Linked DNA regions of Homo sapiens: regions 1, 2, 4 and 5 are each linked to region 3. The links come from fine-mapping of genetic effects on gene expression. A gene starts in region 3. Each other region holds a variant in brackets. All regions are shown on one strand. Distances are from middle to middle. Region 1 overlaps TM4SF20 (transmembrane 4 L six family member 20). Region 2 overlaps MFF (mitochondrial fission factor). Region 3 holds the start of MFF (mitochondrial fission factor). Region 4 overlaps COL4A3 (collagen type IV alpha 3 chain). Region 5 overlaps AGFG1 (ArfGAP with FG repeats 1).

Evidence for each region. PIP is the estimated chance that this variant, and not a neighbour inherited with it, causes the effect.
Region 1: its variant is fine-mapped to the expression of MFF in whole blood (TOPMed, PIP 0.97).
Region 2: its variant is fine-mapped to the expression of MFF in whole blood (TOPMed, PIP above 0.99). The same link has a PIP of 0.9 or more in spleen and thyroid.
Region 4: its variant is fine-mapped to the expression of MFF in sun-exposed skin (GTEx, PIP 0.99). The same link has a PIP of 0.9 or more in anterior cingulate cortex.
Region 5: its variant is fine-mapped to the expression of MFF in whole blood (INTERVAL, PIP 0.97).

What each region holds. Positions count from the first base shown.
Region 1 is chr2:227,369,949-227,375,056 of GRCh38, reverse strand. It overlaps TM4SF20 (transmembrane 4 L six family member 20), which reads left to right. Exons shown (of 4, transcript NM_024795.4): 2 at 4,077-4,142. Among named protein-coding and RNA genes, the nearest start is that of TM4SF20, 6.8 kb to the left of the region's middle. RefSeq lists an enhancer at 3,284-4,483. The variant T/C (reference allele first, on the strand shown) is at 2,076.
Region 2 is chr2:227,354,218-227,359,325 of GRCh38, reverse strand. It overlaps MFF (mitochondrial fission factor), which reads right to left. Exons shown (of 9, transcript NM_001277062.2): 8 at 3,565-3,649; 9 at 1,493-2,340. The coding sequence ends at 2,209. Among named protein-coding and RNA genes, the nearest start is that of TM4SF20, 23 kb to the left of the region's middle. The variant T/G (reference allele first, on the strand shown) is at 2,762.
Region 3 is chr2:227,322,990-227,328,097 of GRCh38, reverse strand. It overlaps MFF (mitochondrial fission factor), which reads right to left and starts at 2,847. Exons shown (of 9, transcript NM_001277062.2): 1 at 2,671-2,847. It overlaps MFF-DT (MFF divergent transcript), which reads left to right and starts at 2,934. Exons shown (of 14, transcript NR_102371.1): 1 at 2,934-2,980. RefSeq lists a silencer at 2,506-2,795 and an enhancer at 2,976-3,025.
Region 4 is chr2:227,269,615-227,274,722 of GRCh38, reverse strand. It overlaps COL4A3 (collagen type IV alpha 3 chain), which reads right to left. Exons shown (of 52, transcript NM_000091.5): 24 at 4,743-4,813; 25 at 3,771-3,953; 26 at 1,606-1,774. All of the region lies in intron 4 of MFF-DT (MFF divergent transcript), which reads left to right. Among named protein-coding and RNA genes, the nearest start is that of MFF-DT, 53 kb to the left of the region's middle. The variant T/G (reference allele first, on the strand shown) is at 2,953.
Region 5 is chr2:227,494,652-227,499,759 of GRCh38, reverse strand. The region is part of intron 2 of AGFG1 (ArfGAP with FG repeats 1); the gene reads right to left. Among named protein-coding and RNA genes, the nearest start is that of AGFG1, 25 kb to the right of the region's middle. The variant A/G (reference allele first, on the strand shown) is at 2,159.

The DNA.
Region 1 (5,108 bases), 47 kb before region 3:
TACTCGGGAGGCTGAGGCAGGAGAATCACTTGTACCCAGAGGCAGGAGTTGCAGAGAGCCGAGATTGTGCCACTGCACTCCAGCCTAGGTGACAGAGTGAGACTCTGTCTCAAAATTTTTTTTTTTTTTTTGTAGATAGGGTCTCACTATATTGCCCAGGTTGGGGTCAAACTCCTGGGTTCAAGCAAGCCTCCTGTCTTGGCCTCCCGAAGTGCCAGAATTACAGGCATGAGCCACCATGCCTGGCTGCAAAATATAGTTTTGATATTTGTAATGAGCTATGACTTTGTGTGTTACTCTCATGTTCAAGTTCTTAGAGGACTCCCAAAAGTCTGAATTTCATCACAGGATTTTTAATGGTCTGAAGTTTTTCCACACTTCATTTGTAAAATCATGTAACTTCTCAAACTAAATACAATTAGGGGGCTCTGTAAGAAAAAATCAACAATATTACTTTCCTTTTTAAAAACAAAAGACTAGCAAGACTTTTAATTTTACAAAAACTCAGGCATTCAAATATGCTTAGGAAATGAAGAGAAAGTGTGTTCTCATAATTACTCATTTTGGCAGGAGATTATCTGGAAAATTTATATATAATTCATACACACACACACACACACACCATTCACAGTTTTAGTGTCTGTCTAAAGAGCCCCTCCAATTTCCGGAGCTCTGAATGGGAAAGCGGTTGAAACCGCAGCGAGTTGTCAAATCACCAGTAACAGCATTACAAAGATGTGTTAATACGCCTTGAAGTCGGTGGGGTGGTGACTTATACACTGTAAGTAATTGTCCCTTTATAAAACCCCTTTGTAAGTGAATCATGAAAGGAAATATTTAGTAACTCTGAAATAAACTTATCTTCAAGAAAGTTACCAGAGTTCAGTTTGCATCAACAAGGAAAATAGAACAATTTATCCATTTAAGTTGTAATGTCAATCCACTTTTTTTTTTTTTTTTTTTTTTTTAGACAGGGTCTCACTTTGTCATCTAGGCTGGAGTACACTTGCACTTTCTTTTAAAAGAATCATTAATTTTCTAAATCTGTAGCTGGCAAACTGTAAATATTCAGCCAATATTTTCGGTTTATAAACCAGCCTCTTCCACATATTTTTTTTTTTTTTTTTTTGAGACGGAGTCTCGCTCTGTCACCAGGCTGGAGTGCAGTGGCGCGATCTCGGCTCACTGCAACCTCTGCCTCCCGCGTTCAAGCGAGTCCTCTGCCTCAGGCTCCCTGGTAGCTGGGACTACAGGCACGTGCCACCAAGCCCGGCTAATTTTTTGTATTTTAGTAGAGATGGGGTTTCACCATGTTGGCCAGGATGGTCTCGATCTCCTGATCTCGTGATCCGCCCACCTTGGCTTCCTGAAGTGCTGGGATTACAGACGTGAGCCACCGCGCCCGGCCTCTTCCACACAATTTAACTCTACTCTTGGTGCACAAAAGTAGCCATAGACAATATGTAAATACATGGATGTGACTGTGTTCCAATAAAACTTTATTTACAAGAAAGAGGTGGTGGGCCATAGTTTGCCAGTTCCCGTTCTAAATGATTTGTCCTGTAAGCTCAAAAGGCAGTACAGCTTATGTGTACAATAAAAGATGTTTAGTGCACGAATACTGATACCTATTTGGGAGCTAAAATTTCTTTTCCCTTTTCTTCTGGGCTTTCAGCTATGCGCCAAGGTGGCTAGGCAGCCATATACACATGTGGCCTCTAAATAAGGAGGGTGGTGGTGTTCAAGGCAATGTGTAAGCAAAGCTTGATAATAATACAAAGTGACATGGAGGCAGTACATCATCAGATGGAGTGAGGTTTGTTAGGAAAGCTGCCTTGTAAAGAGGCATAAACTTTAAACCCGTGCTAAAAGAATAAAGGCAGATGTGGCCTTGGATAAATGAATCAGAGTGGGAGTAACTGGAAGGACAATGAGATGGGCAAGGGTGAAGGCAGCAGGGAAGATGAGAATGAACAAACTCTAGGTAGGAATAGGGGAGAATTGTAAGACTTGAGTCAGTGTGGAATAGGGATTAAGAGTCCCGGCTGAGCACAGAGGCTCACCTGTAATCTCAA[T/C]GCTTTAGGAGGCCGAGGCGATCACTTGAGCCCAGGAGTTCGAGACCAGCCTGGGCAACATGGCAAAATCCCCGTCTCTACAAAAAAATGCCCCCCAGAATAAATTAAAACTAACAGGGCGTGATGGCATGCATCTGTAGTCCCAACGACTCGGGAGGCTGAGGTGGGAGGATCACTTGAGCCCTGGGTGTTGAGGCTGCAGTGAACCGTGATCATGCCACCGCACTTCAGCCTGGGTGACAGAGTGAGACCCTGTCTCAAAAAAACAAAACAAAACAAAAAACTATGTGGGCTCTGCACCCCAAATGACTAGCTTTTTTTGTTGTTGTTGTTTGTTTTTTTGAGATAGAGTCTCGCTCTGTCGCCAGGCCGGAGTGCAGTCACATGATCTCAGCTAACTGCAACCTCTGTCTCCCAGGTTCAAGTAATTCTGCCTCAGCTTCCTGAGTAGCTGGGGCTACAGGTGTGCACCACCTCGCCCAGCTAATTTTTGTATTTTTAGTAGAGACGGGGTTTCCTCATGTTGGCCAGGCTGGTCTCGATCTCCTGACCTCGTGATCCACCCACCTCGGCCTCCTAAAGTGCTGGGATTACAGACATGAGCCACCGCGCCCAGCCAAATGACTAGTTTTGAATCCCAACCCTTCTACCAAGAAAGTAGAAGGACAATTTGAGTAATTTGTCCTTTCTATGCCTCAGTTTTCTCATTGGTAAAATGGGAATAATAATAGCACCTACCTCATAGGATTATTATGAGGATGGAATAAACTAAGGCGTGTAAAGTGCCTGTAACAGAGTCTGGCATTCGCCAGAGCTCGGGAAAATGTTAGAGAATGAGAGTAGAAGGAGAGAGAAAAACCACTCAAGGGCAGCTGTGCTGAGATGGCAAAAAAACCTACGCCTAAAATTTCTCAAGCGGAAGGAAATAATTACATTCCACCCTTCAATGATACAAAACTCCTTCCAGTAAGAATTTCTAGTCGTAGCTGCTGCCTAGATATACTAAAAATTGAAACCCAAGTCCTGAGAATATGGTGTTCTTTCTTACAGCTTTCCTTGGCAACGTGTATTTCCCTGAAGGCAGAATGCGATCTATAGATTTCTGAGCATCAATATATAAAGTGAGATCATTACATATCATGGATATAGGAAGAGAAAGGAGAACGTGGAACCAAAAATAATTCTCAAATATAAGTTTGGGGAAACCAGCAAGATAGCCGGGATCCTGGGAAAAGAAAGGCTAGTGGGAGTGGGTGGTGACAGAATGATTTGTTCCCAACTGCCAGGCAAACAAAACCATCAATTTCTTTTCTGCAGGTTTGCCAGAATAATCCATACAATTTCTGGGAAATCGGGCCAGGCGTAATGGCTCACATCTTTAGTTTTCTTGGCAGGAGGTTTTCTTGAGGCCAGGAGTTCAGGACCAGTCTGGGCAACAGAGTGAGATCTTGCTTCTACAAAAATATTTTTAAAATTAGCCAGGTGTGGTGGTCTACACCTGTGGTCCTAGCTACTCAGGAGGCTAAGGCAGGAGGATTATTTGAGCCCAGGAGTTCAAGGCTACAGTGAGCTATGCTCGTATCACTGCACTCTGGCCTGGGTAAGAGAGTGAGACCCCTACTCTTTAAACAAACAAACAACAGAGTTTGGATGATGCAGCCAATTCTTTCAGAAACATTTCTTCCAAAAATAATGTATAAATAAGTCATCCTAATCTATTTAAAATCCAATTCTCTGCAGATGACTCAGAGTGAACTAAGAATGTAGATAGAAGACTTCAAAACTCCTGTCTTGAATTCCCCTGTTCCCGCCGCCACTTTTAATCTTTCTGGTTGAAACTGGGATGACAAGGTTCACAAAACCACGGATATTGCCAAATTCCCTTTTTGTTCTTTGAGCCTTGATTTCCCACAACTGGTGGTAAACGGAAGGTGAAGATTACTATTTTTTCTTCTGATGAGAAGTTATAATACTCATCTTTCCTGTTGATGTCATTTCCAGGCCATTCCAGCAACAACAATGTCCTTGACAGCAAGAAAAAGAGCGTGCTGCAACAACAGAACTGGAGTAAGTATGAAGCAGTCGGCGTGGAAGCAGAAGTGCATGAACAGTTATTGCTACCTAAGCAAAGCCACACTGAGTCACTCGCATCTACCGAATCACAGTGGGGCTCCACTGACAGAGCCACAGCCTTAGAAACATGCTATTTTTATTTATTTATTTAGAGACAGGGTCTTGCTCTGTTGCTGAGACTGGAGTGCAGTGGTGCGATCTCGGTTCACTGAAACTTCTGCCTCCCGGGATCAAGCAATTCTCCTGCCTCAGCCTCCTGAATAGCTGGGACTACAGGTGCACACCATCACGCCCAGCTAATTTTTGTATTTTTAGTAGAGATGGGGGTTTCAACATGTTGGTCAGGCTGGTCTCAAACTCCTGACCTCGAGTGATCTGCTCGCCTCGGCCTCCCAAAGTGCTGGGATTACAGGTTTGAGCCACTGCGCCTGGCCTGAAACATGCTATTTAGGATGATTATATAGAAGTAGAAAAAGTGAGACGGGTTTTTTTGTCCCACAAACATTTAGAGTTGGCCTTCTGTCCCTTCCTCAGTCTTCCGTGGATTGTCCTTTCCTCAATCTAAAGGTTTTCAAAGAAAGGAGATTGGTAAGTCACGCCCACAGCTGCAATCAATTTCATAATACTCGGGTGTGATATTTTTGTGGCGTATATAAAATACTCAGGGAAAATGTACTCAGTTCTCTCATGCAATGACAGACTGGTTTGCTAGGATTAGAATGACAATTGCCTTTATCCAGTTAAATTAAAGGAGCTGCCAGGTTTTTTTCCCCCAAAACATTTAATGCCTACCCACTATGTATAAAGTCGTAACGAAGTTAAAAGTAAATTAAGATTCATTAACCGGAGTGTCACTCTGCTCAGAACACTTTCAGAGATGCTGTTTCATTTAATTCTCTCAAAACCCTTAAGTGGGAAAAAGTAAGAAGTGTGTTTGATTGACGAAGGAATGGACGCTCA
Region 2 (5,108 bases), 31 kb before region 3:
GATCTTCTACCCCTTGCACAATCATTAAGGGAGAAAGCTCCAAGTGTCCATTCTTTGGTAAGAATCATGAGGGAAAAAAAGGGCTTCCGCACTTCTCTCTCAGTATTCCTGCTTTTATTTCATTTTTTGACCTTTGTGGAATCCTTTTCATGTCTGTTTATCAAAAGATACTAACCTTATCCATCATTTTTCTTCATTTTTGTGATTTCAATTTGGAGGATAACCACAGAAATTACCTTCTGGTATACATAAATCTAGAATTAATATAGTTGCATCATTACCAAAAGTCAGAAAACTTCTAAGTACAGAGAAGAATCTTTGTCTTGATATTATTTTAGAGGGATAAGAAGCAAGAACGGAAATGCTAAATCTAACTCTATCCAAGGAATTTCCTCAACTGCCTTTCCCCAAACTCCCTGCCTTGGAAGAAAGATACCAAAGATGTGTGGAGAATGTTGCACCTAACTGAATTCTACCCATTTCTGAACCGAAAATGGGGAAATATAAGTTTTGAGAGCTAAAACTGTCTAGCACTTGGCTTCACTTGGTTTAATTCTTTTGAGATTTACTTTTAAATTTTTAGTTTTTTTTTGAGACGGAGTTTGGCTCTGTCACTCAGGCTGGAGTACAGTGGCATGATCTCAGCTTACTGCAACCTCTGCCTTCTGGGTTCAAGTGATTCTTCTGCCTCAGCCTCCTGAGTAGCTGGGATTACAGCTATTGCCACCATGCCTGCCACCACACCTGGCTAATTTTTGTATTTTTGGTAGAGATGGGGTTTCACTGTATTGGCCAGGCTGGTCTCGAACTCCTGACTTCAAGTGATCCACCCGCCTAGGCCTCCCAAAGTATTAGGATTACGGGCGTGAGCCACCACACCCAGCCTTGAGATTTAAATTCACCTATATATAATTAGCAAATAAATACTGCCATGAAAAAAGTATATACAACTCTGGCTGGGCGCAGTGGCTGTAATCCCAGCACTTTGGGAGGCTGAGGCAGGCAGACCACCTGAGGTCAGGAGTTCGAGACCAGCCTGGCCAACATGGCGAAACCCTGTATCTACTAAAAATACAAAAATTAGTTGGGTGTGGTGGCCAGCGCCTGTAATCCCAGCTACTCTGGAGGCTGAGGCAGAAGGATCACTTGAACCTGGGAGGTGGAGGTTGCAGTGAGCTGAGATCATGCCACGGGACTCCAGCATCAGCAACAGAGCGAGACTCCATCTCAAAAAAAAAAAAGTATACACAACTCAAGGTATTTAAACCTGAACCACTTTATAGATATTATAAATTAGAAAACCACCTACAATGCAACCAACAGCCACCACCACCAGGATGAAGGTCTGAAAGGAAGCACAGCAGGTTCTTGCTACCTACCAGGTCATTAATTGTATTACTTGCTCTGAGACGGGAAGACTCATAAGGTAATATGATACAAAATGTAGCTGATTGCACAAATGATGAAATAAAATCCTTCAACAGACAAATACTTCTTTGGTTGACAGTTTATTAAATACACTACATTTGTACCTTATTCTGTCGTTTTTTAAATTGTTCACGCATGAACTGAGTAAAAACGTACTTTATAGAAAACCAAGTGCAAAACTAAAATGAAAGAATGCACATATTGCACACATATGAAACTGCTGCAATGTTAGAAATTAATCTGTACAAGTACCTAATGAAGAAGGTTATGAAATATTAGGTGGTTCGAGTTTCTTAAATCTGGCACCAGACCATGACTTTGAAAGTGTTAATGTTGAAGTGTCGATGCAAAAATGTCTATTAACAAAACTGCTTAACACTGTTTGAGAAACAGGACAAAATAATTGTTTTTCTTTCACAGACACTTTTCTGAATCAATTCTCTACAGACTCTCTCCCATTCAGAATCAGTTGGGTGGACTGATGAGGCAAAAAATAAATTCCTTTTAAAAAACAAAACTGGAGCCTATTTACAAAACATGCAAAGGGAGAATTTTAAGCAGGTGTTACTGCAGAACTGCTCAGACGTGAATACAGCTGAGTGACAGAATATACCTTTACTTCTACAAATATAGGTCCTTCCTCCAGACTTTCTGGAAGAAATACATTTTCAGGGTGTGGACTATAAAATGGCATACAATGCAGAGACAGAAACAAAGAAGTTTGCAAATCTTTTATATTTCCAGCTGTTGAGACAGTATTTTTGAGGGCTGATGTTACCTCTAGCGGCGAAACCAGAGCCAGCTATTAAGCAGCCAGAAAGCTACAGTAATTGAATACATGACCATTTCTCTTTTAGCACGTTCTTTGTTCTCCTCTTCCAGAAGTTGTAGACGTCTATTTAGTTTGATTATCTAAGTGAAAAACAAACACACAAAAAATATAATATAGAGGCTTTAATGAATAGGGCAATCAGATTCTTATAAAGTAAGTAGTATAATAATTTGTCAACAAAAGTATTATTACAAACATGGAAAGTTTCATTTGGAGCAAAATAAACACAACTACACATAGAAAAACATGTCATTCATGACAGCTTAAATTCACTTAAACATCCTTTCCCTTTCCCTTCTTCAGATTTCTGAGTTAGGAAGGGTGTATTTCCTTCCTAACTTGATTACATAGTGAGGTGAGGAAGCGGTTACCTACTGTTATTCTGGCAGAAAAGACTCAGTATGCATTTTGGCAGGCTTACCACAGCAGAAAGAATACGGGACTCCTTCCCCTTTCTATGCCTCTCCTATGAACTTGTCACTCAACCTCAGTTGTTCATCT[T/G]GAACCTGGCATAACCGCCTTCTCTGTCCACCTCTGAGTTACTGAGACAATCCAATAAAATAATCTACTGTAGGGGGCCTTGGGATATGGCACCCAAACCCTTCAGGCCTGAAGGCTAATTCCCCAGCTGCTGGAAATGCTGCTGGCTGACAGTACCATCCTTGCTGTTAGCCCTTACTGTGAAAATCCCAGGGCTGAACAACCACCTGCTAAAGCTTGTGTTCTCCTACTGATCTTCACCTAAAAATATCTTATTTAATCCAATTTCCCTCTATATCTATTTGGTATAGACGCAATGAGAAAACCAACTATGCCTTCTTCACATGTGTGTATGTCTGTGTGATACTCGAGGCTGTGGGAGTACATATTAAAAAATATGCATGTGCAACTGCAGTTCTAAGAAAGGATTTATTACAGAATACAGGAAATACGTATGCAGGGATGCTGTGCAAGCTGCAAGGAGCGGTTTCCAAAATGGAGTTATTAAACACAGTAACAAAGGTTCCAAAGTAATTGTTCCACATTTCAAAAGCCAAACAAGCAACTGATGGCTGTACTGGTTTGCTAAAGATTCTTTGTTACTGGCCAGAATTACATTAATCTATCTTGGTAATACTGTTTTACGGTGATCAAAACATGTAAATGGTAGTTTAATATATCTTTAATCAAAATGAGAAAATCAATGATGGCTTACTAGTTTGATAGTCCCACAGGAGAGAAAATAATAAAATGTTGAGAACTATCACTTTAAAATATTGTATGAATATAACTGAGAAATATATCTTATTTGGTACACTAAATACCTGTCGTCTTAGTGAAGCTGCATCTACAACAGTCAGGTCATCTGACGTTCCTTCAATGGTTGTATCTATATTTGAAATGCCATACCTGCAGATAAGAGATAGAAATACAAATGAATAGTAAAGTAGAACTCAGAGTAAATGGCACGCCACATCATGCTTTGTGTAATGCTCAAAGTAGTATTCAGAAAATTGGTACTTAATAATATGAATTACTAAAATATTTTACTACCTGAATTTGTACTAATAAAGGAAAGAAAAAAGCTTAAAATGACAACTGTCTACAATATTGAAAAAGGGCACTAAAAACTGGAGAATGGGAAAAAAATCCTGACTAAAGAAACACATAGAAAATTCTCAAGCCAGAAGGATTGGCGATGCTAAAAAGGGTCCCTGGCTGAAAAGGTTTGAGAGCTGCCACTTAGGATAGAACAAAATATAATTCTTACACAAACTTATGTCCATATGTAAGCCCATAGGCACAGACTCACTAGCAGGGAACACAAAGTAGACTAACTCTAAAAAAAGAAAGACTCATCACCTCTTCTCACTGCCTCTTGTCTTGCCATTTTTATTCTTTACTTCTTGTCTTTTTATTTTTTTGAGACAGAGTTTCACTTTTGTTGCCCAGGCTGGAGTGCAATGGCACAATCTCGGCTCATTGCAACCTCCACCTCTGGGGTTCAAGTGATTCTCCTACCTCAGCCTCCCAAGTAGCTGGAATTACAGGCACCTGCCACCATGCCCGGCTAATTTTTGTACTTTTAGTAGAGATGGGGTTTCACCATTTTGGCCAGGCTGGTCTCAAAGTCCTGACCTCAGGTGATCCACCCACCTCAGCCTCCTAAATTGCTGGGATTACAGGCCTGAGCAACCACGCCTGGCCTATTCTTTACTTATTTCCAATTACTTATGCTCTACTGTGTTCTCCCGCAGAAACAATTATAAAATCTCCTGAATACATCTTACCACTACATTTAGCTCCAGAATTGGCCCAATAATGAATAAAATGCTGTGTATAAAATAATACTGAAAAACCATTAAGACAAAATCCAGAGAAAGCATATTAAAAAAGTACTTTTTGTTCCAATGTAGTTACTTCTAAAGCGGCACTAATTTCTAGGTGAATGACACTAAACCTCTGAAAAACAAAGACAAACGCCATTCCTCTTCTTTGCCTGGATTTCCACATTTTAAAATTTAGTTTAATTAATAGCTTCATTGAGATACAACTTATATAACCACATAATTCACCTCACATGTATTTTATACCCTAAATGGTTATTTTAGTAAAATGGCATAGTAAATTTTCTAAATGAGCAGAATATAAATAAACTAAATTAAAAGTTATTCCTGTGTAGTCCAGAGAATTGGCAAATGGATCATCTATTCTAATACCTATCCCAGCAAGTCCCCACTACAAAAAGTACATACCCACAAAAAGGGATATGAAGCAGAATTATACTTTTCATCCAGACATGTTAAAGACAAGTCTACTCAGAAAATCCTTTTGTTTTAAATATTGTTAAAAGTAATAAAAATACTTT
Region 3 (5,108 bases):
TGCCCGGCCTGTTTAAATTTTCATTCACTTACGATGTTAAAATTTTGAACTAGTAATGCATGTACTCGGTACAAAGTACGCAAGCTATACAGAGAAAAGGAAGTGTCCCACTTTCAATCCTATCCTTAACCACCCAGGTTCCCACAGGCAACCTTTATAATCAATTTTTGTGCATCATTCCAGATGAGATGCTCTTCTAATACTTGCGTGTATCTCAAGCATAGCAAAAGCTCATATTCAGAACTAACACTGAAAAAAGCTACCTCAAAAAGATTATAGCCTTTGGCCATTATAAATTGAAGTTTTATAATAATAAACGAGAACCAAGTGGCTAGAACCTCAGTATCTCCTTGAAATGTGCTTTCTCTGCATTCCATTCATTGCATTTCAGTCTTACGAACTTTCTAGTAGTACATCTCATAGGTCTCACTACTATATTCCATTCTATAGCAACATCTTTTCTTACGAGAATATCTGAGTTTGTAAAAAACTAGTGACTTAGAAAATAAAGGTGGATGCTGAAATGCCAACTTCTGGAAAAAGCCAAGTTCTCCTGTAGCTGAACTACTTACATTTAAAAAGTAACTGGATTTCTACTAAGATTTAACACTGTATTATCCCAATTATTGGGTTTTCTGCTTAAAACCAATCAAAATCTGATTTTTTTTCTCCCTCGTTAGACTGTGGCATTTCTGATAATATCTTTTGGCAATAAATAAACGTCTCATTTGGTGTTGATATGTTAATTCCAGAAGTTTTGTACCTTAGAATCCAGTAGGCAACCAGTACGTGATTCTGTTACATAACAAACGAGGCAAAATCTCTCTTAGAATCACAGATGATTTCATATTTCTACTTTCTAAGCCCAGTGGTTCCCAAACACCAGTAACTAACTTGCCAACTTCATGGGTTTTTTTTTTCCCATATTCACAGAGTACATTAACTTTTTGCTACAGTTAATTTTTTTAACTCGACTTTTTAAAATCAAAAAAGTATTGTAAAAGAAAATTTTGTATCACTACCTTAAACCATGGCTGTACATATATAAATACAGATTGCAAAAACATCCTATTACAAAAAAATCCTCATCCACGTACCGCCTAGAGTCAAGTCACATGCCACTAGCGGAAAGTGTACCAATTTTGGGACACAATGATTCCAGCCCAACTTTCTCATTTTCTGTATTAGAACACTGGAACCCAGAAAGCCTCGGAAGTCACCGAAACAACTTGAGTCAAACTGACTGTGGTTGCAAATGTTTATGTACTTTTCAAAAACAAACATACAAACAAACAAAAACAAACCAAAAAAAACCCTCCAGTTGTTTATTACCTACTGCGTGGACCTAGTTCACACAGATGGGCCACTCTGCACACCCTGTTTCAGTTCTTTTTCAAAGAAACTATATTTAAAAAGTCACTGCAAACTTTTAAAACTATATATTAATGAACTTTAAAATAAGGTTATGAACCCACAGAAAAGTTTCAATACCAGAAGAGAGGAGAGCGAAGACTAAACTTTGCAATTCTGAAAGGAGGCAGCTCTATCAGACAGGAAGGGAGAGAACACAATTTCCTTTTGGAAAAAATGGCAAAACCAATATACAAGCCTTTGAAACCAAAAGATAGAAGGTCCCCCAAGCAATTTAATTGCATGGGAAAAGACTACTAAGTATAACTAAATCGTCCTAATTTTCCTAAGGGTTTTTCTTTTGGGCTCTCATTAGCCAACGGAATTGAGGCAGAAAAAATGTTTTTCACGCAGGGAGACAAAACATTTGTGATCATCTTAAGTCTCTCGGTGGATGAGAGGCCTGAATACAAATGGTTCTATATTTGGGCAGAAGGGCCAGAAACCTTTTTTTTTTTTTTCCCCTTTAATGTTCTCCAATGAAAACATGTCACTTTTGAAAGGGTGCTCTTCCCTCGAGAATGCCCTTTGCTTCTAACTTTGTGGGAGGTAGACAGGGGTGTTCTTTTACGATAGTAATAGTAGCACACGTCCTGCAGAGGAAGGTCAGAAGCTCGGCGGAACAGGAACCGCAGCTTTCCTCCGGCTTCCCAGCTCCTGGAAGGAAACCCGAGAGCAACTGCCTGCAGCCACATCTGCGAGCAGGGATGCTCACAGACGGACAGGGTGGCCCGCAGCCACCCGCGATGCCACAACCTGGGCTTCCAACAAGGCCCTTCTTTTCCAAAATGTACTTGCCACAAAACAACACAAAAACCTCCTTTTAAACAAGGCAGGTTTAAGGTCAGCCTGTAAGGTGTCAGGGCCTTGGCAGGGAAGGATGAGTGAAGACCTGCAAAGCCCGGCGTTCACGCTCACGGGACTCCCGCTGCTTCCCAAACCCCTATTTTCCAGTCGGAAAAGTCCGGGTTAATACACAAAAGGAGACGCCGAACCACACAAGGTGAAGAGGTTCGCCCAAAAACACCTGCAGAAGACGCTCCTCTCCCTCGCTCTCCTCGGGGACTCAAGGTCCCGGGGAGGAGGAAAGACCAGGGTTGAAGGCAAGAGGCCCGGGGACGGGACTCGGGTCAGGGAGACACTACCGGGGGGGCCGGGGCCACCGCGGGTCCCTGTTGGCCGGAGGGTCTCGGCGGCGGCGATAGGCCTGGCAGCCAGCTCGGGCGGCAGGTCGCGGGTCGGGAAGACGTCAACACTCACCCCTGGGCCCACAGGAGGGTCCCGGCGAGGACCCCCGCCCTCTGGCTCCCGGGGCGCTCGAGTGGGCGCTCTCAGAGGTGGTTGGCTGAGAGCACGGAGGCGCCCAGGGACAGCACCGGCGGAGCGGCCCGCAGAGGGCCAGGGCAGAAGCGCGAAAGGCGCGGGCTGGCCCCTTCTGGGAGCCGTAGCGGAAGAGTGTTCGTGGTCATGTGACGCGGAAAAGGGCGGACGCGTGGCCCACGCACTGGAACGGCTCCACGGTAAGCGATGCGCAGACATCTTTGTTGTGGGCGAAACGAGGTGACCGCAGGTGACTCCTCTTGCGGTTAAGTTTAATTCACACTTCGGCTTTATTAGATTTTGTAATCTTTAAGAACTTGGTGTTTGCAAGGTAAACCTTTGGTAGCCAATTAAAACAACTTTTTCAGGACCATCTGGCATGAAAATTTCTATGCTGTGAGGCTTAGGAATTCTCATATGTAAATCAGCTCCGCCAGTGATTCCATGAGTTCCAATTTGATACTTCTTAAGCCCTCGGTTGATCAGACCTTGTCTTCCATGAGAATTCCGGGAGAGGGGAAGTTAAGTTTCACAGTAGTTGGCGGCATCGTTTAGCTTTGGGAGAGCACTCTCTGCTTCTGAACACCCAACCACAGACTCTTCCCCCCAGGAAGCCCTTGCTTAGAGCGGGGGAAAAATGGTACAGTGCTTGTCAGTATGGGAATGTACTGAGGCCAAATAATGTGATATTTTATATGCCTTGGTTTTCACAAACACCTAAAGGTGTACACATGACTTATGTACTCCCCTACGATCTAATTGATATTCTAGAGATGTTACCATTCTTCAAAATGATTTGGGAAGCCCTCTGAATTGCGTTCTTGGGCTTCTTAACACTGGTGTAGGGAAAGTGAAAATATTTCCTCTCCCCTCTTGGGGTCTTGGCTGGGCCTAAGAATTAAACTGATGAGGAAAAGAGTCAAACTCTAAAATATTTGAAGAGATTTATTCTGAGCCAAATGTGAGTGACCATGGCCCGTGACAGAGCCCTCAGGAGGTCCTGAGAACATGTGTCCAAGGTGGTTGGGGCGCAGCTTGGTTTTATGTATTTTAGGGAGGCATGAGACATCAATCAAATAAATTTAAGAACTACATTGGTTTGGTTCAGAAAGGTGGGACAACTCAAAGCAGGGGCTTCCAAGGCTGTAGGTAAATTTAAACATTTTCTGGTTGACAGTTGAAGACCTGGGACCCATAGAAAGGAAATGTTGAGGTTAAAATAAAAGATTGTGGAGACCAAGGTTCTTTTGAAGTCTTATAGTGGCTGCCCTTAGAGACAATGGATGACAAATGTTTCCTATTCAGATCTTTAAAAGGTGCTAGATTCTTACGTAATCTCTTTAGGATTGGGAGGACCTGGAAGAAAATGATCTAGCTATGTTAATAGAAATTCTATGTAGATGCAGATTTTCCCCCAACAAAGGACAGCTTTGCAGAGCCGTTTCAAGATATGTCAAAAACTAAAAAAAATGTTTTGCGGTAAAATATTTTGATTTTGTTTCTTGTCTCGTTATGCCAGTGTCAGATTGGAAAGTAAGTCACAATATATAGGGTTAAATAAAACCCATCTGATGAGAATTTATGGATTGTAGGGCATGAATCCCTAGGCCCCTTAGATAGGAATTTGAGCAAGATTAAAAAAAAAATCAGAGCTTAGTCTCCACTGACGTAAAATAGAGACATAAAACATAACAGGAGGAAAGCATACAAATTTTATTTAGTAATTTTTACATTTACATTGGAGCCTTCCCTAGAAAAATGGAGACCCAAATTAACAGTTGGACCCTAAGTGCTTTTGAGTCTCCATTTTTCTAGGGAAGGCTAAAAAGAGTAGTAAATTGTGAAAATGTGAGAAAACAAACAGATTTGGGTTAGTGCAGTTAATGCAGAAGTGACTAAGAAGATAAAGGTTGTTGTAACAAAGTGGAAATGAAAATCGGTAAGTTTGTGCAGATACAGCTCAGCTTTGACTCCATGTCTCTGGTGTTGAGAACATCTCCCTTCCTCCTTATACAGGGAGGGCACCTTTCATACGGAAGTTTTATCTCCTGCTTTCAGGAAGGAAAAAGGAAAGCCACAGTGCTCTTTTTGCATTTTTTTTTTAAGTGCCTTTGACTCGAAAATAATCTTTATGCCAAAGTGCCATATTTTGGGTTGGCATATCCTACTATTGACAGAGCAGAAGCACTGCCATTTTAAAGTGCCCCTTGATCAAAAACCACCTAAATCCAACCCAGAGGGCATCAGCCTAATGGCTGTCAGCATGACCACAAACCACAAATGACACCTCCGACCAGAAACATTCTAACTCTAAGATAAACCCCTCTCCCACCAGACACATGCCAGCCCCAAGATAACCTTCCCTCTGACCGAGCGAT
Region 4 (5,108 bases), 53 kb after region 3:
GTTCAAGACCAGCCTGGCCAACATGGTGAAACCCCATCTCTACTAAAAATATAAAAATTCGCCTGGCATGGTGGCAGGTGCCTGCAATCCCAGCTACTTGGGAGGATGAGACAGGAGAGTAACTTGAATTTGGGAGGCGGAGGTTGCAGTGAGCCAAGATTGCGCCATTGCTCTCCAGCCTGGGCGACAGAGCAAGATTCCATCTCAGACAAAAAAAAAAAAAGCAGCTCCAAAGTAAGGTGCAGATAAACATAAATATTTATTTGTTTATTTAATATATAGAGAAAGTCATAAAATAAGATTTACATACATGTGTGGACAGAAATGATGCATACATTTATAACATATAATGTAAGGTTGTGCACTCAAAAAGTTTTACTGATGAGGGAAGACACTACAAAATGATTTAGAGGTTTACTGGGTCTTACCCTTTAAAGTGATTTTTAAAATTTATTTATTTATTTATTTATTTATTTATTTATTTTTGAGACAGTATCTCAATCTGTTGCCCAGGCTGGAGTGCAGTAGCACGATCTTGGCTCACTGCAACCTCCACCTTCCAGGTTCAAGCGATTCTCCTACCTCAGCCTTCCAAGTAGCTGGGACTGTGGGTATGTGCCACCATGCTCAGCTAATTTTTGTATTTTTAGTAGAGATGGGGGTTCGCTATGTTGACCCGGCTGGTCTTGAACTCCTGACCTCAAGTGATCTGCCCACCTTGGCCTCCCAAAGTGCTGAGATTACAGGTGTGAGTCACTGTGCCCAGCCTAAGGTGATTTTAGAAGTAAAACATGACCATGTTGGCATTATTTGCTCAAAACTATCAGTAGCATGCTATTCTGACCTTCAGCCACACTCCTGAATCCAGAACTACGGCCAGTATATGTATATCCCAAAAGTTACCTGGACTTTTAAACTATTATCAGACCATTTTCCTTCATTTGTCTTAGATATTTTAAAGTTTTATTTGTAACCTGCCTATGGAGTTATGGATCAAAATCAACAAATTTGTGGCTGCGCACAGTGGCTCACGCCTGTAATCCTAGCACTTTGGGAGGCTGAAGCAAGGATTGTTTGGGGTTGGGAGTAGGAGACCAGCCTGGACAACACAGCAACATCCTGTCTCTACAAAAAATAAAAATAAAATATATATTAGCTGGTCGTGGTGACACGTGCCTGTAGCCCCAGCTACTCAGGAGACCAGGCAGGAGGATCTATTAAGCCCAGAAGTTTGAGGATGCAGTAAACTATAATTATGCCACTGCACTCCAGCCTGGGCAACACAGTGAGACCCTGTCTCTAGAAAACCACAAAAAACAAATTTGCAATAACGCTTAGGATCTATTCATTTCATATATATATATGTATGTATGTAATAGATATAGAATATTCTAGGAAATTTCAGTTGAATTGCCCAGTAATGGAGAAAAAATGAGTTTTCTCTAACATACCCTACATATTCTTTCCTGGTATCTGTGAGTTGACATATTCTATTCGTTAGAAGCAAGTTTCTATATTTTCCTTAGTCTTGGAGAAGCTTCGTTAGCTCTAGAAACCATCAACCCACTCCATCGGAAAACAGGACTGGAAAGAAAACTAACCAACCGGCTTCTCCGGGTGGTCCGGGGGCTCCAGGAACTCCTTGCGTGCCCTGGAGACCAGGTTCTCCTTGGGGTCCGTAGCCAGGTGGTCCAGCTGGTCCTGCAGGTCCTGGGGACCCAGGGGAGCCAGGATCCCCTGGAGGACCTTGGTCCCCTTTCTCACCACTCAGAGCCTGTGACAACAGGAATGTGTTTGAATCGTGCTTCATTCCAGTATATTCTTACAACAGGTTAATCATCCTCCAAATATGAATACCAGTTAGGCTGTCATTGAGATCTTGAATTAAAAGCATTTGGCATTTGATGAGAATTATTACTAAAGTAAGAGCACTGCAGGTTTCTTCCGTTTTGTGTCCTTTGGAGTTTAGCAACATTTTTTGAACTTGGAACTGTCTTGAGTCCCACTTGAGATATCTTACAATGATGGGTCTCCCATATGGTAATAGCCACTAAAACTATGTTCAAATTGACCAATAGTTCAAATGACTTTAGTGGTGATATTCATGATAATGTTACATTTCTGAAATAAAATGAGCACAGCAAACCTTTATTTCTGGTTTCACCAGGTATTTTCATGACAAAGGGGATTTCCCACTTCCATTTTCTCTCATAAACTGTCTAGTTTTTAAATCTTCATATGCTATAACCTTGAAAATGATTTGTAGATTTAAAAGAAATTGAATTTGACAAAATAATTTAAGCCCTCTTCCTTCCCAACATGGCCCTCTGAAATAAATTTGACTCAATTTTTCATTGTTCAATATCATCAGATGGCTAAGTGGTCTGTCTCCTTTTTTAATGACAGGGTGTAAGACTCAACAAATCACCACCTTGATTTTTCTCTCATTTACTTTATGGAGCATCTTTACCAGAACTTATAAAGAAAAATCAGTGAGATGCAAGTAGGGACATCATACAAATTCTCTTAATATTAGACCATCAGAATTCTGGCACTGTCACTTTATAAGCATAACTACCACAAAGTGAACAACCTGGGACTTGGCCAAGGCAGGGTCTGAGAACTGCTGGCACCATAGATGCTGCCAGCCAAAAAGGGTTTTGTAGTCAGAAGCATTTAGGAAAGACCAGATAGCTTATCTTCATGTGGAAGACTCACAGTTCATATTCTGATATTAAAGGGTCTGTAAATGAATCTTTAAATTTGTTTACCAAGTTTCTCCAAACCTCTTTGAGGTAAGATCTGTTTTATTGGCTAACACAGATTAGCCCTGGGAGAAACTGGTATTTCATAGAATAGTTTGGGCAGCATCCCTTGCAAACCTCTTGTAAATACATTATGATGACAGGTGCTCACCCTCTCACTCTGTGACATTTTAAAATAAATCTTAGG[T/G]CTGGGTGCAGTAGCTCACACCTGTAATCCCAGCACTTTGGGAGGCTAAGGTGGGTGGATCACCTGAGGTCAGGAGTTCGAGACCAGCCTGGCCAACATGGTGAAACCCCGTCTCTACTGAAAATACAAAATTAGCTGGGTGTGGTGGCACATGCCTGTAATCCCAGCTACTCAGGAGGCTGAGGTGGGAGAATCACTTGAACCCAGGAGATGGAGGTTGCAGTGAGCTGAGATTGCACCATTGCACTCCAGCCTGGGCAACAAGAGCAAAACTCCCTCTCAAAAAAAAAAAAAAAAAAAAAAAAAAAATCTTGGTAGGTATTACCTCAATTAAATATGTGAGAAACTCTCTCATGAAAAGGGATTAAATTTCCATAAAATTAAATGAATGACAAAACATTTAATCTCTTTATTTGACTACCATACCCCTAAATATGCTGTCTTCTTATGCATTTATTTTTATTTAAAAATATGGACATCGCCCCAAAATATTTACTAAACTTTCTACTATACATCATTTTCTGAACTTTTCCATAGACTCATTTGATACAAATATGGAACTGTAATTTGTGTATGAGATGGGGTCATTATCAATGTAGAATTTTGATTGGTTGAAATCACTGAATGCTACCTATTTATTCTGTCAAAATACTATAACTATTTGCTTGGGTTATTCCTGCTAATTTGAAGATGTTTCATTCTGCAGTTAGAGTGATGAACTGTGCTGAGCGGCCAACCATTTTTGGAAAAGAAATCACTTTATCTCTTAACTTCAGAGTACTTCATTTATAGGGAGGGTAAAGTTGCTAAATACCAACCAGTTCGCCTTTAGGTCCTGGTAATCCTTTCACTCCCGGAGTTCCAGGAATTCCATCCAAGCCCTTTCTCCCAGGTTGGCCTCTGAGCCCCGGGTCACCTGGGACACCCACTTGCCCCTCAGGCTGAAGTGTTTCACCTTTTTCTCCTTTAAGTCCTGGGTCACCCTGGGCACCTGGGAAACCCTAGGGTAGTACACAAATGAATCTGTATTGTATTTTGTTAGAATTCTTCTTCTGTCAATCTTAAAAACAGTGTGGACAAGAACTTTTCAATTTTAACATGAATTTTTTCAACACACTCTTTGGTCCACAACTATTATTACAAGCATTTTGTTTGTTTTGCTTTGTTGTTAACTTCCAAAACTGAAAAATAATTCAGTTAGATAGTATAATTCAAAGCAATACAGACAATAATATAATTTAATACCATAGAACAATCACCATAATACAGGTTATGTTTGAATATTGGTAAATTTTAACAAGCCTCTTTGAATAGTTTGATCTAAGTATATTTATCTATAACTTTTTGATTCACTATGACAGTCAAGATTCTAATTTTTAACGGACTTATTGAGGTATAATTTACATACCATAAAATTTCTCCTTTATAAGAGTACAATTCAATGATTTTTAGTAAATTTATAGAATTATGCCACAATCACCACAATCACGTTCAAACATCTCCATCACTCTCCCAAATTCCCTCAAACCTATTTGCAATGAACCTCTGTTCCCACTCTCAGCCCTAGGCAACCACTAATCTGCTTTCTGTTTCTGATACCATTTCAAACTGTTTATAAATTCATTGACTCATTCACTTAATCAGTCACAGATTTATTCATTTAATCAACAGGTATCTATTAAGTGCCTACTGTTTGCAAGGCACCAAACTGGTAAGTGTGTTGCAACCATATTTCTAGAGTGTGCAATTTGTCAAATTGAAGCTAAAGATTTAAAAACATGAAATCTTACTGGAAATCCTGGAAGACCTGTATTTCCTGGGGACCCTGGGCTTCCTTTCAAGCCAGCTGCGCCTTGTCTTCCTGCAAATCAACGAATTATTAACTAACTCCTCATTGAACGCCAACTCTAAGTAGACAGGGTAATACAATGTATGAAGAAAATAGAGTGTTTCCTTGTGGGGAAAGAAAGACAACTTCTATCATAAAACATAAATGCAATAAGAGAATGGGAGTAAATAACAGAACAAGAGATCATGTAAAAAGTAACTCAGATCTTAGCTTCTTAAAATTTTATCTTCATAATTTTAAGAATATATCTTTATTTTTTCTGAGTATATATTACTTTTAAAAGTAATATATGCTCATTATAAGAAAA
Region 5 (5,108 bases), 170 kb before region 3:
CCTCTGCCTGAATCTATGCCACATACTACTAATACAGGTCCATTCCAGTCCAATCTTTGTAGGTGTCACTGTGATCCATCTAGCCTCCAATCCCTTTTTTTCTTCCTTTTTTTTTTTTTTGAGACAGAGTCTCACTCTGTCACCCAGGCTGGAGTACAGTGGTGCCATCTTGGCTCACTACAACCTCTGCCTGCTGGGTTCAAGTGATTCTTGTGCCTTGGCCTCCAGAGTAGTTGGGATTACAGGCACACGCCACCACGCCCAGCAAATTTTTGTATTTTTAGTAGAGATGGGGTTTTGCCATGTTGCCCAAGCTAGACTCGAACTCCTGGCCTCAAGTGATCTGCCTGCCTCAGCCTCCCAAAGTGCTGGGATTACAAACATGAGGCATGGTGCCCAGCCAAGCCTCCAATCCTTTATAAGCAATACAAAGTTTTAAAGCCCATTTTAACCACTCGATGTGTGGATATTACCTGGATCCTCATTCAAACAAACCATTAAGAAAAAAAAAAGAAAAGTAAGATACTGATGAACAACAGAAAACTTAAAACACTGACCAGATGACTAGATTACTGTTAATTGTCATAGGGACAAAAATAGCACTGTTGCCATATATATTTTAAAGTCCTTGAAATTTACAGATAACATGAGAGTTGAGTTTACAGATGAAATTTTATGTCTCGCATTTGCTTAAAAATAATAAAAAGACAGCCATGTGTTGATGGAAGTTTGTTACATTATCTACTTGTCTAAAGGCATGAATAACTCCACAAAAAAACTCTTTAAAAAAGAAACAAAAGCATCTAATGATTTATATTGTTTTAATTCGAGTCAAGTAAGATTTTTTAGAAGATAACACACAATGGCAAGAAAAAAACAAGCTAAGAGATTACAGGAAGCTAGAATGGTAAGGCAAACAGCTAGAAAGAAATACACTGTAACCTGGAATATGTAATGTAAAAAAAGTTAAGTAAACTCTCAGAGTAGTTACAAACAACATCTAGCTTCTTCTATAAATCTCTGGGTTTTCTGTCATTCAAAAAGACCCACGGATTATGATATGTTCAACACAAAGACATGTCTACATTTTCTACATTTTTGTTAGTGTATTTCTCTGAAAGCCAACAGTTAACATCAAATAATATACTCTAAATATTTTCAACTTTACTAAGTTACTACTGACTAGATTCAGCTAATATTTAGAAGAGCCATAGCACCATACCTTCCTTTCAAAATGCTTAAAAGGCCAGACGTGCATAAATATGCAGACACTAAATAAATATCCCTTAAATAATAACAATAGTGTGCTTTAATATTTTAATTGGATGGTTTTAAACCTGAGATATCCCTCTAGGAAGCTATTCCCTCAAATAATTAATTTTGTAGTTTAAAATGTTTTTCAATGTATTATTAGTGAATGTTTTCATTTATTAATACCATCATACTGACTGAAATTCTGCAAAAATTTATCTCCACCCTAAATTCAATTCAAAGCATGCCATGTTCCTATGTGATACTTATTTTCTGTGTTTAGGAATCAACTGGAAAAGTATCTTTGCCCATAAAAGCACGATCTTGGGCAAGTTACCAAACCTGGGGAAAAAAATTTTTTTTTAATTTTAAAAAATAAAATAAAACCATGATCTTACATCTATATAATACATCAATTTTCAAAATGTTTTCCTATATACTACCTTCAAATCAACCTCATGAAATAGGCAAAACAGATATTTCCCACAGATTACAAAGGAAAATGAAGGTCAGGGAAAAGTGGTTTCCCCAAGGTAACAAGGTTCATAAATTAGTGGTAATCAAACTAAACCACGGATTTTTTTGAGTCCTAGCAAATTAGCCAGGCATGGTGGTACATGCCTGTAATCCCAGCTACTTGGGAGGCTGAGGCAGGAGAATCACTTGAATCTGGGAGGTGGAGGTTGCAGTGAGCCAAGATTGCACCACTGCACTCCAGCCTAGGCGACAGAGTAAGACTCCGTCCCCAAAAAAAAAAAAAAAAAAAAAAAAAACAAAACAAGAAAGAAACTCATTTGGCTATATATGCTTGTGCATTTTCACTGCTTTAGGTATAATTAAGACGTATGCAAGATTATGCCACAGAGATGTCTATAATGTCTTGAGGGCAGTAAGACCAATACAGAAG[A/G]AACTAAGAGCAATAACAAAAAAAATTTTTTTTTGTAAATCTTACAGTGAATGTTATTTTTTAAACAGTTTAAAATACATATGGGGGTGTTAGTATCTGAGGTATAAAAACTCCTGAAAGACTGATGGGATTAGAAGAGAAAAGTCAAGCAAAAATAAAAGCCAGCATTGGTAAAATGGCAAGAAAATTAGAATACAGATAGCACATGTGGAAAACAAAACAAAGATCATTGTAGTTAAAACATTTCTGCTGGCAATAACGTCATTACATTAAGAAGTCAGGTCATAAAAAGATTTACATTGCAAGCTGAAACGTTAAGAGTTCTATACATCTTCAATCTGCAGACCAAACTGGGTCATCACTAGCCTGTTTTTATACTGCCTTAATCTAAAGATGGTTTTTACACTAAAGAATTGTGTGTGTGGGGTGGGGGGGGAAGAGGGGGTGAATTTCAAACAAGGATATGCAACAGAGAATACAGGTGGCCCACAAAGCCTACAATATTTACTATCTGGCCACTACAAGCAGTTTGCCAACCCCTGCCATAGGCAACAGAATAGCTGTAAATCCTGAATTAATGAGTATATAACTTAACTCTGCCACTCTACATGGCAATATGTTGTTACTAAAATAACTATCAATTTTCATTATTATTAAACTCAGCAGAAAATCGAAGTTAAAATGCTCCAAGAGTTTAAATACATAACCCGAATATTAATGTAAATGACATGACAGTATGCTATGAAAACTGAAAAATCCCCCTACAGAAACCATCCAAACCAGGAATGAAAATAAAAATTGATAATTCTTCTTATAACTTCTACCACTTTAGATTCAGATTCAATAAATAAATACTATCTGACAAGAAATACGCTGGGAATTTTCACAAGTTGGCCTAATTCAAAAAATCCTAGCATTTTTATACATAGGTATTATAGTTACTACCAATAGAAATTAAGGCTAAAAAGCTTCTTGCCCAAGGTTCACAACCTGCATAGTCCAAATCTGAGCTTTCAGCACAAGACCACTGTACTTTTATTATGTCTCCTGCATGTAGAAGACTGCAAGGGGAGGACAGGAATCATCTCCCTTTTTGTATCCCTAGGACCTAAGGACAGTTCCTGGCACACAGCAGGCTATTTTATTTATTTTTTTTTTTTGAGACGGAGTCTCGCTCTATCGCCCAAGCTGGAGTGCAGTGGCGCAATCTCGGCTCACTGCAAGCTCCACCACCCAGGTTCACGCCATTCTCCCACAGTAGGTAATTTATTAATAAATCTCTGCTTCAAAAATGAATCAATCATGAATGTTAACAAGGGAAAAGTGTACGTTATTGCATGGGTTTTCAAAGCAATCATTTTGTTTTGTTTTTAATCCAGTATAGAGATAATCAAATACTGGCATGCAATGCCTGATTTTACTCCTACACATAGACCATGCCTGTGGAGCATTAATAATAATGTCTTCTTTTTTTTTCTTTTTTTTTTTTTTGAGACAGTCTCACTCTGTTGCCCAGGCTGAAGTGCAGTGGCACAATCTCACTGTAACCTCCACCTCCCAGGTTCAAGCGATTCTCCCACCTCAGTCTCCCAAGTACCTGGGATTACAGGCACACACCACCATGCCTGGCTAATTTTTTTTTTTAATATATATATATTTTTAGTAGAGACAGAGTTTCGCCACGTTGGCCAGGCTGGTCTTGAACTCCTGGCCTCAACTGATCCATTCGCCTCAGCCTCCCAAACAGCTGGGATTACAAGCATGAGCCACTGCACTTGGCCAGTAGTAATGCTTTTACTTTTAGTCTTCAAACATATTAGGAAGGTTAACTTACAACTAGAAAACATAAACTATACATATTTCAAAATAAAATTATTTCTAAATTTTCTTCTCCATTGAATTATCTACTTACAGCAGTGTTCACCAGTCCACCTTCCGTTAACTTTATAATCAGAAGTTAATCCAACTTCCTTTAACTAGAAAACCATAATTTGCCCATGACATCACAAATGAGGACATACAGAAAATCACTATAGATTTTTTTTTTTTTTTTTTTGAGACAGTATCTCGCTTGGTCACCGAGGCTGGTGTGCAGTTGCATGATCATGACTTACTGCAGCCTTGAACTCCAGGGCTCAAGCAATGCTCCCACCTCAGCCTCCTGGGTAGCCGGGACTACAGATGTGTACCACCACGCCTGGCTAATTTTTAAATTTTTGGAGAGATGGGATCTCGCTTTGTTGCCTAGGTTGATCTCGAATTCCTGGCCTCAAGGGATCCTCCCACCTCCACCTCCCAAAGTGCTGGGATTACAGGGGAGCTACAGTGCCAAGATCACTACAGGTTTTTTTTTAAAGTAACTGTATGATACAAAAGAAATACATGGAAACTTTTTGTGAAATATTCTGGTTCTGAAAAAAATGACAAAAATTACTTCAGCAAATAAATACAAAGTGCTCCAATGCGAAATATTTTACTAGCATCTGGCATATTATGTGCTGTAACTTAATGATATACATATCTCCTCCACCAAACACACTGTAGAAGTCTATAAACACTAAAGTAATAGTCAAGAAATTTGTAAACCACATCTGTAGAAACTAATGATCTACTCTGTAAGTATGGTCTCTATGCATATCTATAAATAGTAATAACATTATTTGCTTACCACAGCTACCAATACAGATATACTTTATTGATGACTAAAATACAATTCGTATTGCCATCAGTTGTGTGATTGTATCCATGCCCTTTGCCCTGTAACTTGGTAGCCCCTCTCACTCTGATTCTGGGCTTGGAGCATGACTTTCTTTGGCAATAGGATGTTCAACTACAATGCAAGTATTAAGACAGAATTAAATTATATATGCAGAAGACCATACACAGATGTTTCCCACATATAAATGTCTGGAGGAACATTCATAGCATATGGCATGCAGGTTAATTCTGT